Homo sapiens: one gene and its partners. The protein of the gene in region 3 interacts with the protein of the main gene of each other region in a biochemical or structural test. Each region holds a gene or a part of one and is shown on either strand. Other genes may lie near its edges.

Evidence for each region.
Region 1: the proteins of EIF3F (region 3) and ERCC6 form a complex in vitro, tested with the Homo sapiens proteins (one large-scale study listed by BioGRID).
Region 2: of the proteins of EIF3F (region 3) and CDK11B, one has a biochemical effect on the other in vitro, tested with the Homo sapiens proteins (one study listed by BioGRID and IntAct).
Region 4: of the proteins of EIF3F (region 3) and RPS6KB1, one has a biochemical effect on the other in vitro, tested with the Homo sapiens proteins (one study listed by BioGRID).

Annotation. Positions count from the first base shown.
Region 1 is NC_000010.11:49,529,122-49,532,621, reverse strand, and holds part of ERCC6 (DNA excision repair protein ERCC-6), read left to right. Parts: coding exon 1-79; intron 80-1,781; coding exon 1,782-1,902; intron 1,903-3,500. UniProt on the Homo sapiens protein: Involved in repair of DNA damage following UV irradiation, acting either in the absence of ERCC6 or synergistically with ERCC6. Involved in the regulation of gene expression.
Region 2 is NC_000001.11:1,649,005-1,652,504, reverse strand, and holds part of CDK11B (cyclin-dependent kinase 11B), read left to right. Parts: coding exon 1-66; intron 67-2,867; coding exon 2,868-3,006; intron 3,007-3,500. UniProt on the Homo sapiens protein: Plays multiple roles in cell cycle progression, cytokinesis and apoptosis. Involved in pre-mRNA splicing in a kinase activity-dependent manner. Isoform 7 may act as a negative regulator of normal cell cycle progression.
Region 3 is NC_000011.10:7,999,845-8,002,352, reverse strand, and holds the end of EIF3F (eukaryotic translation initiation factor 3 subunit F), read right to left. Parts: 3' UTR 501-2,508; downstream 1-500. UniProt on the Homo sapiens protein: Component of the eukaryotic translation initiation factor 3 (eIF-3) complex, which is required for several steps in the initiation of protein synthesis.
Region 4 is NC_000017.11:59,945,121-59,948,097, forward strand, and holds part of RPS6KB1 (ribosomal protein S6 kinase beta-1), read left to right. Parts: intron 1-285; coding exon 286-398; intron 399-1,430; coding exon 1,431-1,668; 3' UTR 1,669-2,466; coding exon of another isoform or gene 2,467-2,482; 3' UTR 2,483-2,977. UniProt on the Homo sapiens protein: Serine/threonine-protein kinase that acts downstream of mTOR signaling in response to growth factors and nutrients to promote cell proliferation, cell growth and cell cycle progression.

The sequences.
Region 1 (3,500 bases), on a different chromosome or scaffold from region 3:
ATGCCATCCATGAGGCCAGCCGTGCCTCCCAGCTCGTTGACGTGGAGAAGGAGTATCGGTCGGTCCTGGATGACCTCACGTGAGTGCAGCCCATCTTCTTCCTTTCAAAGTGGTGGTAAAACATGACAGGGATATTCAGGTAATGGAAAGCTCTAGTATTCCAGAAGTTTAGGAGATGTGTAGAACCTTTTATTTGGAGGACAGAGTCAATAAGGGCAGTCCTCAACCTCATCTTTGAGTCCCAGCCCTTCCCCTTAGGAGTGGCATTGTACATGGTAGTTAGAGTCTCTGTCCAGCTCGTGAAAGCCAGTTGCATGCATAATGTCCAGAAGAGAAGGGCTGTTCACCAGCATGTGCACAAAGTGATCTCAGGAGAGGTGCACCTAAATTCAGGTGTTTCCTATTCGAGATGCCAGGAATACATTGCGCCCCCTTCACATTTTTCTCTGTGCGGTAGCTTCTTTCTAGCTTACTGTCCCCAAACTTAGTGTTCAGTCCTTGGGCAATTTTTCAGATTTGCATTTTTAGAAATAATAAAGACTCCCCGGTTTTCTTTTCTTCCATCCTTGTTCTGACTCTGGAAATGGAGATTTTATTTGTGTCTTAGAGAGGGAGAAGACTTGAGCTGTTTTGAGCATAGCACGTTAATGGGGAAGAAGGGGAGGCTGTAGACCTGAGCAAGGGTAGGAGGTGAGGACAGGAGAGGGGAAGTGGGAGGGGTTGAGCTCACTTATCATTGCTGCTTGGCCCCCGTTGGGCAGTGTTCTGGGCAGTGTCAGGTAAGCAAGAAAGAAGGCGAGGGCTGAACGGGATGGAGGATGGAGCAGTGTCACAGAGGATAGCTGGGGAGGGTGGAGTGTGGCGCTGTCATGAATGTGGTTGTTGGTACTTCAAAGACATGTTTTCTGCTAACCATTCCCTGGTGTGTTCTTTTGGCCTCCTCAGGAGCAGGTGCTCGTTCATGGTTATAGTCTGAGTGTTGAGGACCTCAACTCTTTGTAATGATACTTTTACATTTGATCTTGGAAATGTGTCCTCTTTCTCCAGAGGTGACAGAGGAGAGTTGTGGGGTCTCCATGCAGAGTGATGCTAGATGGCTGGTGGCATGTGGTGTCTCAGCCAGTAATACGCATTGTTTATCCTGTAATCCACAGAGGATACAAACAGCAAATTACACAATCATCAAGAAGATTGAATTTGTGTTTTGAAAATTGGAAGCTACAATTCTATGGTGTCTATTTTAGGAGTAATTTATTTTAAATTGATTTGTTTTCTTTGCACCACAAAGTTTAGTGCTGTAGTAAGTGAATCTTCCATTTATGTAGAAGAAAAATATTGTCGCAGATGTGTGATTTATATAAAAAAATGTTTAAGCATATTTAGGATGCTTCCAGACTTTGGAAGGCTTCCGTAACGGGCTTAAAAAACCCATGTATGCATTTTTTCATGTAAAAGGACAACTTATTGCACATTGTTCTAGCATAGTGTGTTGAATAAAGTAGGCACTTAAATAATGCTTGTAGAATGACTGAAGCAGCTTACAAATGGGAATGAGCTGATCTAAATCAGCTAGATAAAAGAAAACACTAGCAGTCATCTTAAACCTCTAATGATCCTACAAGTTTTATTTGTGGCCAATAAGGGTATGTATTCTGGTTTAGTTTCCTTTATCTTTTAGTTAATAAGAAGTAAAAGGGACATGTTTTTAGCATTTTTCTCTTTATATTATGCTATAAAAATGTTATCAGAGTGCAAAATAGACAATTTATCTTATTTTTCAGGTCATGTACGACATCCCTAAGGCAAATCAATAAAATTATTGAACAGCTTAGCCCTCAAGCTGCCACCAGCAGAGACATCAACAGGAAACTAGATTCTGTAAAACGACAGAAGTATAATAAGGTGATTCAGAATAACATTCAGTATTGCATTTTTGAAAAAGTCATCATTTAGGGGCACTTAATTTAGGAAGTATTTTAAAAAGTGCTTATAAGATGTGAAGCAAATACTTATAATTACAATAGAGAAATTTTGGGTTTCTTTTGTATGTTTAATCTTTCTGCTGTTTTCCTTTAACATCCCATTCTATTGCATTTAAAAAAACACACATACATAGACACACACATCCATACGTATACAGTTGCTCCTTGATTTACAACAGGGTTACATCCCGACAAACCCATCGTAAATTGAAAATATTGTTAGTCAAAAATGCATTAAATACACTGAAAAACCTATCTTAAAGTCAAAATATTGTAAGTCAAACCATAGTTAAGTCCAGAGGCTCCTCAGTTTATAATGGGGTTATGCCCTGATAAACCCATCACAAAGTTGAAAAATTGCAAGTCAGACCATGATAAGTTGGAGACCATCTGTGTATTTGAGAAAAGTTCCTTTTTGGTGTTGCTTGCCTCACTTGGGCGCACTTCCTTAGTTTTCCTGCATCACCATTTCTTTGGCCTGGCTTAGGGTCACACTGGCCTCAGTCTCCTGGTCTCCTGTGAACTCTTTTCTGCTTAGCCCTTGCTTCCTCTAATTGTCTCCACTCTGTTTCTTGGTGGTGCAGCCATTGACCCTCACACACCTTTGCTGACAGTTGCGAGAGCTTGGCCCTTCCTCCCACCTTGGGTGTTACAGTCAGCACCCAGCCACACTGGGGTTGTACTTAGCTTTGGAAAACTTAAGGGTAGGGAATATTTGTTACTTAGGATATTATTTTTATGAAGTTTGAAACTTTTTTTAAGGATTTATGTACAGCTTTGTGAGGTCTGAAACATTTTTTATGATTTATGTACCCCTTTGTGAAAATACATTGCAATAGATAGGAATGACTAGCTGTAACCATTTCAGTTCTGCCATCCCAACTTGTGCTTACAGTTGATTCACTGCAGTGAGTAGAGTCCTTGCATCTTTTCTTTAAGCTCTCCAGGGGCAGGGCTGTGCGTTGGTTCAGTTCACGTGGCCCTCCTTTTATTATACTTTCCACTCACCAGTCTGTTACCTGCACTACCCCATCTTCTCTCACTTGCTTCCAGAATAGCAGCCCAAAGGTCAAAGCTAGCAGTTGCCCAAGGCAGGTGGGTCCTCCCAAATCAGAGAGAGGACATCTGGTCTCTTGTGGGAGCATGTGAAATTGATGTGCAGAGACCTTCTTGGGCTTCTAGTGGGCTGGAATTTCAAGGGTGTAGAGCATCAAACTTGAGACCACTTCAGGTCCTAGTCTAACTTAATTATGCATTCTTGTCTTTAGCAGCTCTTTGATGGTTAGAGGTAGACTATTCAGAGGGAAAGTGCTTTAGACAGAATGTTGCTGAGAGAAAAACTGAGAAAAAACAAATTGCAAGTCATTGCAGTGTGGCATTTATGTTCAGGATTTCCCCTTGTCCCACACTCGTATTTGAAGTTGAAACATTCTTGACCTTGGAAAGATGAACCAGGTACCACAAGCCCAGTTCATTGGGCCTCCCCAGTGAAGCCCAAGGGCACATATCTGAGTTCTG
Region 2 (3,500 bases), on a different chromosome or scaffold from region 3:
CTCATCACAGAAAAGATGAAAAGAGAAAAGAGAAACGTAGGCATCGTAGCCATTCAGCAGAAGGGGGTACAGAAGCATTTACTTTCTTTGACATCATGTTCAAGTGTGGTTTCTTTCCTGTTCCTACTCTTCTGCCTTCCCCAGAGCACCACTGAAAAACCAGAGAAAGCAAACTCTAGCTGAAAGCATACGTGTGTCACAGACCGTTCAGAATGGCTATAGAGAGAATACTCTAGCTAAAAGCATGCGTGCGTCACAGACCGAAAACCAGAGAGAGCAAACTCTAGCTGAAAGCATGCGTGTGTCACAGACCGAAAACCAGAAAGAGCAAACTCTAGCTGAAAGCGTGCGTGTGTCACAGACCATTCAGAATGGCTATAGAGAGAATAGCTGAAAGCATGCATGTGTCACAGACCGTTCAGAAGGGCTATGAGAGCAAACTAACTAAAAGCATGCGTGTGTCACAGACCAAAAACCAGAGAGAGCAAACTCTAGCTGAAAGCACGCGTGTGTCACAGACCATTCAGAAGGGCTATACAGAGCAAACTCTAGCTAAAAGCATGTGTGTGTCACAGACTAAAAACCAGAGAGAGCAAACTCTAGCTGAAAGCATGCATGTGTCACAGACCATTCAGAAGGGCTATACAGAGCAAACTCTAGCTAAAAGCATGCGTGTGTCACAGACCAAAAACCAGAGAGAGCAAACTCTAGCTGAAAGCGTGCGTGTGTTACAGACCATTCAGAAGGGCTATAGAGAGAATACTCTATCTGAAAGCATGCGTGTGTCACAGACCATTCAGAGGGGCTATAGAGAGCAAACTCCAGCTGAAAGCATGCGTGTGTCACAGACCGTTCAGAAGGGCTATACAGAGCAAACTCTAGCTAAAAGCATGCATGTGTCCCAGACCGAAAACCAGAGAGAGCAAACTCCAGCTGAAAGCATGCGTGTGTCACAGACCATTCAGAAGGGCTATAGAGAGAGTACTCTAGCTGAAAGCGTGCATGTGTCACAGACCATTCAGAGGGGCTATAGAGTACTCTAGCTGAAAGCATGCGTGTGTCACAGACCGTTCAGAGGGGCTACAGAGAGCAAACTCCAGCTGAAAGCATGCGTGTATCACAGACCGAAAACCAGAGAGAGCAAACTCTAGCTGAAAGCGTGCGTGTGTCACAGACCATTCAGAATGGCTAGTCCATTTTTCCTCTGGGGTTTTCTCTCCCCCATTATATTGTTTGGAAGCAGTTTGTTTACATTTAAAATGACCTGAATTCAACAAGTATAGGAGAAAAACACACCCCAAAATGGGTATTTGCTCAAGTCCAAAGAATGGGTTTGGCTTGAGCAGTTTGATCTCGTACCAACATCAGGAGGTTCTTACGGGTGTTAGGAAAATTGGACCTGGAGCCCGATTGAAATGTCATGATTATAAATACACTTGATTAATTAATGTGGCTTCATTGCACAGTGGAGAAGCCCACTGATAGCAAAGCTTTGTTCTGTAGTCTTTGTGAAGAGTGATTTTTGTATTATAAAACTGATAATTATAGTTTATTCAGTATGGAAAAGTTTTAAAAGACGAATATTACAATTCTGCTCTTCTGTGATAGCAGAATTGTTTTTCTTTTTTCTTCTTTCTTCATAATTAGACGCTTACTGCAGATAGTTTTTTATTTTCAAAGTTTTTTATTTAACATAAAATCATGATTATTCGGCTGGGTGCAGTGGCCCAGGCCTGTAATCCCAGCACTTTGGAGGATCAATTGAGTCCGGGAGTTCAAGACCAGCCTGGCCAATATAGCGAGACCCTGTCTCTTTAAAAAAAAAAAAAAAAAAAAAAAAGGCCGGGCGCGGTGGCTCACAACTGTAATCCCCACACTTTGGGAGGCCGAGGCCGGCAGATCACGAGGTCAGAACATCAAGACCATCCTGGCTAACATGGTGGAACCCCGTCTCTACTAAAAAGACAAAAAATTAGCCGGGCGTGGTGGCAGGCGCCTGTAGTACCAGCTACTCGGGAGGCTGAGGCAGGAGAATGGTGTGAACACGGGAGGCGGAGCTTGCAGTGAGCCGAGATTGCGCCACTGCACTCCAGCCTGGGCGACAGAGCAAGACTCCATCTCCAAAAAAAAAAAAGAAAAAAAAGAAAAATTAGGATTACTTAACGTTAACATCATTATTTAAATATTTATTTAAATATTTACTGTTCTTGATTTAATTTCTTTTTTTTTTTTTTTTGGGACGGAGTCTTGCTTGTCACCCAGGCTGGAGTACAGTGGCGCAATCTCAGCTCACTGCAAATTCCATCTCCTGGGTTCACGCTATTCTCCCGCCTCAGCCTCCCGAGTAGCTGGGACTACAGGTGCCCGCCACCACACCCAGCTAATTTTTTGTATTTTTAGTAGAGATGGGGTTTCACCGTGTTAGCCAGGATGGTCCCGATCTGACCTTGTGATCCGCCCACCTCGGCCTCCCAGAGTGCTGGAATTACAGGCGTGAGCCACCGCGCCCGGTCTTAATTTCAGTTTCACGTGGGTTTTTTTTTTTTTTTTGCCCAGGCTGTAGTGCAGTGGCGTGATCTCGGCTCACTGCAACCTCCGCCTCCCGGGTTCAAGCAATTCTTCTGCCTCAGCCTCGCTTAGTAGCTGGGATTACAGGTGCCTGCCACCACGCCCAGCTAATTTTTGTATTTTTAGTAGAGACGGGGTTTCACCATGTTGGCCAGGATGGCCTTGAACTCCTGACCTCAGGTGATCCGCCCGCCTCAGCCTCCCAAAGTGCTAGGATTACAGGCATAAGCCTCCGTGCCCGGCTTCATGTGAAATTTTTGAAGTGAGGTTTCTTTGCATGACACTTTATTTCTCATTAGGGAAGCATGCTAGAGTGAAAGAAAAAGAAAGAGAGCACGAACGTCGGAAACGGCATCGAGAAGAACAGGATAAAGCTCGCCGGGAATGGGAAAGACAGAAGAGAAGGGAGATGGCAAGGGAGCATTCCAGGAGAGAAAGGTGAGTCGGCTGGGTCAGTTGAGGACTTTATAAAAGGGCTGTGGTAGTGTGTCCCATCCTAGAAATGAAGAAGAATTTGGCAATAGAAGTCACATCTGAGCCAGGTGTGGTGGCTCACGCCTGTAATCCCAGCACTTTGGGAGGCCGAGGTGGGCGGATCATGAGGTGAGGAGATGGAGACCATCCTGGCTGACATGGTGAAACCCCGTCTCTACTAAAAAAATACAAAAAATTAGCTGGGCATGGTGGCGGGCACCTGTAGTCCCAGCTACTTGGGAGGCTGAGGCAGGAGAATGGCGTGAACCCGGAAGGTGGAGCTTGCATTGAGCTGAGATCCCGCCACTGCACTCCAGCCTGGGCGACAGAGCGAGACTCCGTCTCAAAAAAAAAAGAAGAAGTCACATTTGGTGCAGAAGTGGTAGACATGGAAACAGCACAGTGAACGCTGGACGAGGCTGACCAAGAGAACTGTCCTGAGGGAGTGAGTTTTCACT
Region 3 (2,508 bases):
TCAGCCTCCCCAGTCTCTGGGACTACAGGTGTGCACCACTGCTCCTGGCCATATCTTATTTTTTAAAGGAAAGCCATTACAGATATAATTGAAACCACGTCTGCATCCCTTGCCAATACTGTTCCCTCTCTTCCTCTTTTACTCTCCAGAAGTAGTATCTTAAATTTGATTTTATCATTTTTCGCATGTTTCCTACTTTTTTTTTGAGACGGAGTTTTGCCCTTGTTGCCCAGGCTGGAGTGCAGTGGCGTGATCTTGGCTCACCGCAACCTCCACCTCCTGGGTTCAAACGATTCTCCTGCCTCAGCCTCCCAAGTAGCTGAGAGTACAGGCATGCGCCACCACACCTGGCTAATTTTTGTATTTTTAGTAGAGATGGGGTTTCTCCATGTTGGTCAGGCTGGTCTCAAACTCCTGACCTCAGGTGATCTGCCCACCTCGGCCTCCCAATATTTCCTACTTTTTATAGTATATGTAAAAATATAAGGTATTGTTTCATGTTTTTCATGTTTTTATATTTTTATATATTTTTTTGAAAAATTACATTAACAGCATAAAATTCAAAAGTTATACAGAAGAAACAATAAGAAGTAAATCTTTCGTCCTGTCCTGTGCCCCATCTAGTACCTTAAGACAATCAGTGATAGTAGTTTCTTGGCTGTACCTTCACAAATATTCTAGGTATTTATATTATTTATTTTCCCGTACACAACAACAGCATATTATAGACAACATTCTCTCCTGGCTTTTTTCACTTACTCTTTATCCATATTGATATATAGAGGACTGTCTCATTCTGCTTAACAGCTGCATAGTATTGTGTTTTATGGATATATCATACTTTGTTTAATTTCTATTCTGGTAATAGTCATTTGGGTTGATTACCATCTTTACGCTATGATAACCAAGTATTTCAGTACTTATCTATGTATTCATTACATTGTGTCATAACGAGACCAGTTTATTTGTAGGATATATAATGAGGAGTGGAATTCCTGGGTTAAGGGCATGCATATTTGTAATTTTGACAAACACAAAATTACATAGAGAGGGCTGTACCAACTTATATGTCTACCAGCAATCTGTGCCTGTGTCACGTTTCCTCTTACTCTGGCCATTCCAGTGTTAGCAACTTTTAAAATTTGCGAATCTGATTTTTAAAAATGACATCGTTTTAATTTATGCTTTATCAGTGAGATCAAGCATCTTTTCACATTTGTGTGTCTGTGTGTGAGCTGTCTGGTCATATCCTTTACACACTAATGTATCAAATTACTGGCCTTAAAAAACTGTAGGAATTCTGGGACAAGAATATTAGCCCTTTTTTTGATATGAACTGCAAATATTTTCCCAGTTTTATATTTGTATTGACTATTTGTGTATGTGTGTAATTTGACACTCAGATTTTAAAAATGTTGCTAAATTTGTCAGTCTTTTAAAATAACTCCTGGATTCTCAGTTCTTAGAAAGTTCTTCCTCACTCATAAATCATTAAAAACACATTGCTGTGTTTTTTCCCTCATATTTATGGTTTTTTTTTCAGACAAGTTTTTATTCCATGAGCAACTTATTTTGGTGCAGGTAACGAAGTAGGAATCCAACATTGTTTCCAAATTACCACTCATTCGCTCTTAAGTAATCTATCTTTACTTGCTTGAAAACACAACTTTATCATATTCTAGAATTCTGATATCTTTAAATTGACAAAAACTGTATGTATTTTGTACAATGTGATGTTTTGATATATGTACACATTGCGAAATTGATTACCACAATCAAGCTAGTTACATCCATCACCTCACATATTCATTTCTCCTGGTGAGATCTACTCCTAGCAATTTTCAAGTATACATTAACTAGTCACCCTGCTGCACAACAGGTCTCCGGAACGTACTACTCCTGTTTAACTGAAACTTTGTACCCTTGACCAACATCTCCCCATTTATCCCCTCCCTCCAGTCCATGAAACCACCTTTCTACACTCTGCTTGTGAGTTCAATTTTGTGATTCCATATCCAAGTGAGATCATGGCTTATTTCACTAGCATAGTGTCCTCCAGGTCCATCCATGTTGTTGTAAATCAGTTATTTCCTTCTTTTAAGGTTAATAATATTCCATTGTGTAGATGTACCTTTTTTTTTTTTGAGATGAAGTCTCACTCTTCTCACTCTTGTCGCTCAGGCTGGACTGCAGTGGCGGAATCTCAGCTCACTGAAATCTCCACTTCCTGGGTTCAAGCCATTCTCACTTCAGCCCGAGTAGGTGGGATTACAGGCGCCCTCCAAGATGCCTGGCTAATTTTTGTATCTTTTGTAGAGACGGGGTTTCATCATGTTGGCCAGGCTGGTCAAGAACTTCTGACCTCAAATGATCCACCTGCCTTGGCCTCCCAAAGTGCTGGGATTACAGGCGTGGGCCACCGCGCTCAGCCCTATCTATCTTCTGTTGATGGACACTTAGGTTGATGTCTTGGCGATTGTGAACAATGCTTCAGTGAACGTGGAAGTA
Region 4 (2,977 bases), on a different chromosome or scaffold from region 3:
GGAGCCTGAATTTTCCTGTTTTTTTTTCTATTCCTGTCAGTAGGGTAGAATTTTGTTTGCTAGCATATCAGGCTCAATGGAATTCTGCTTTCTTGAAGTGTGTGCCTCACGAAATGGCTGGAAAGAAGTTAACGGGTCTAAAAATGAGGTTGAGGACGTGGGAGAGTGTACACATTGGTGGTTTTAGGTGTGCATCATTGTGTAGGTATGTCAGACTGAACAACCCCATTCTCTTGAGATACATGACAAAATGCCATTCTGTAGTCCACTGTTACTGTCTTTCAGGGTTTTACATATGTGGCTCCATCTGTACTTGAAAGTGTGAAAGAAAAGTTTTCCTTTGAACCAAAAATCCGATCACCTCGAAGATTTATTGGCAGCCCACGAACACCTGTCAGGTATTTCACACTCTTATTTTCACTTTTTTTTGTTTTTAAACAACCTACAAGAGTGTTTGCTTAAGAAGTTTATGCCAAGTTATATAAATGAAAGACTGTCATACTCTCTTTGGTTGACATAAGCACAGCATCTATATCTTACATTGCAAAGGACTAGTCTGACTAATCTATGATGTTATATGGTTTACCTTCCCTCCCAAAAGTAAGCAGCCATACTGGCAAATGTCCTCTTTATCCATTCACTCAGCATTTATTGTGCACCAAGAGCACCAGCACTACATACTGCATGTTATGTGTGTGTATCTATATAGTACTATAATACAGGAATTGTCCCTGTCCTGATGAAGCTTACAATTTAGTGGGAAAGTCACAATAGACAAAGGATATACAAAAATATAATTACAAGTAGTGCAAAGTGCTATAATTTAAAAGGGGAAAAAAAGAATGTACTGGTAGAGAGCAGAGGAAAAACAAGGGGGCTTCTACTCACAGTGATCAGAGAAAGGCCTCCCTGGTGTAGTAACATCTAGCAGTGAACGGAAAGAGCCAGCCCTACAAAAATAGGAGGTATAAGAATGTTGCAGGCAGAAGAACAGCAAATGCAAAAACCCTGAGGGAGGAGAAAAGTTGCCCTTTTCCTGGAAGTGAAAGGGAAATCAGTGTTCCTGGAGTGTGTGGTGAGTGAGGAGAAGGGCAGAGGTTTGGAAAAGTATTTTATTTTAAATGCAATAGAAAGCTGTTTTGAGCAGGGGAGAGTAAAATGATATATATAATACGCATTTAAATGTATATATATCTCATTGAGGGTTTTGGGGGTCAGGTGTAGAGGTAAAGAGACCAGTTAGGAAATTCTAGCAGTTAATCTAGGTGGGGGAGAGATGGTTCAATTTTTGCCTTTGTGCTAATCCACGTGAAAATAAAATTAAATGAAAATAAATGTCATGTTACCCCACTCCCTTTAAACGTAAAGGAAATATGTCTTGTTGAGATGACCCTTAAGCAAATGAATGATAGCTCTTCCTTGTCTTAAAGCCCAGTCAAATTTTCTCCTGGGGATTTCTGGGGAAGAGGTGCTTCGGCCAGCACAGCAAATCCTCAGACACCTGTGGAATACCCAATGGAAACAAGTGGCATAGAGCAGATGGATGTGACAATGAGTGGGGAAGCATCGGCACCACTTCCAATACGACAGCCGAACTCTGGGCCATACAAAAAACAAGCTTTTCCCATGATCTCCAAACGGCCAGAGCACCTGCGTATGAATCTATGACAGAGCAATGCTTTTAATGAATTTAAGGCAAAAAAGGTGGAGAGGGAGATGTGTGAGCATCCTGCAAGGTGAAACGACTCAAAATGACAGTTTCAGAGAGTCAATGTCATTACATAGAACACTTCAGACACAGGAAAAATAAACGTGGATTTTAAAAAATCAATCAATGGTGCAAAAAAAAACTTAAAGCAAAATAGTATTGCTGAACTCTTAGGCACATCAATTAATTGATTCCTCGCGACATCTTCTCAACCTTATCAAGGATTTTCATGTTGATGACTCGAAACTGACAGTATTAAGGGTAGGATGTTGCTTCTGAATCACTGTTGAGTTCTGATTGTGTTGAAGAAGGGTTATCCTTTCATTAGGCAAAGTACAAAATTGCCTATAATACTTGCAACTAAGGACAAATTAGCATGCAAGCTTGGTCAAACTTTTTCCAGCAAAATGGAAGCAAAGACAAAAGAAACTTACCAATTGATGTTTTACGTGCAAACAACCTGAATCTTTTTTTTATATAAATATATATTTTTCAAATAGATTTTTGATTCAGCTCATTATGAAAAACATCCCAAACTTTAAAATGCGAAATTATTGGTTGGTGTGAAGAAAGCCAGACAACTTCTGTTTCTTCTCTTGGTGAAATAATAAAATGCAAATGAATCATTGTTAACCACAGCTGTGGCTCGTTTGAGGGATTGGGGTGGACCTGGGGTTTATTTTCAGTAACCCAGCTGCAATACCTGTCTGTAATATGAGAAAAAAAAAATGAATCTATTTAATCATTTCTACTTGCAGTACTGCTATGTGCTAAGCTTAACTGGAAGCCTTGGAATGGGCATAAGTTGTATGTCCTACATTTCATCATTGTCCCGGGCCTGCATTGCACTGGAAAAAAAAATCGCCACCTGTTCTTACACCAGTATTTGGTTCAAGACACCAAATGTCTTCAGCCCATGGCTGAAGAACAACAGAAGAGAGTCAGGATAAAAAATACATACTGTGGTCGGCAAGGTGAGGGAGATAGGGATATCCAGGGGAAGAGGGTGTTGCTGTGGCCCACTCTCTGTCTAATCTCTTTACAGCAAATTGGTAAGATTTTCAGTTTTACTTCTTTCTACTGTTTCTGCTGTCTACCTTCCTTATATTTTTTTCCTCAACAGTTTTAAAAAGAAAAAAAGGTCTATTTTTTTTTCTCCTATACTTGGGCTACATTTTTTGATTGTAAAAATATTTGATGGCCTTTTGATGAATGTCTTCCACAGTAAAGAAAACTTAGTGGCTTAATTTAGGAAACATGTTAACAGGA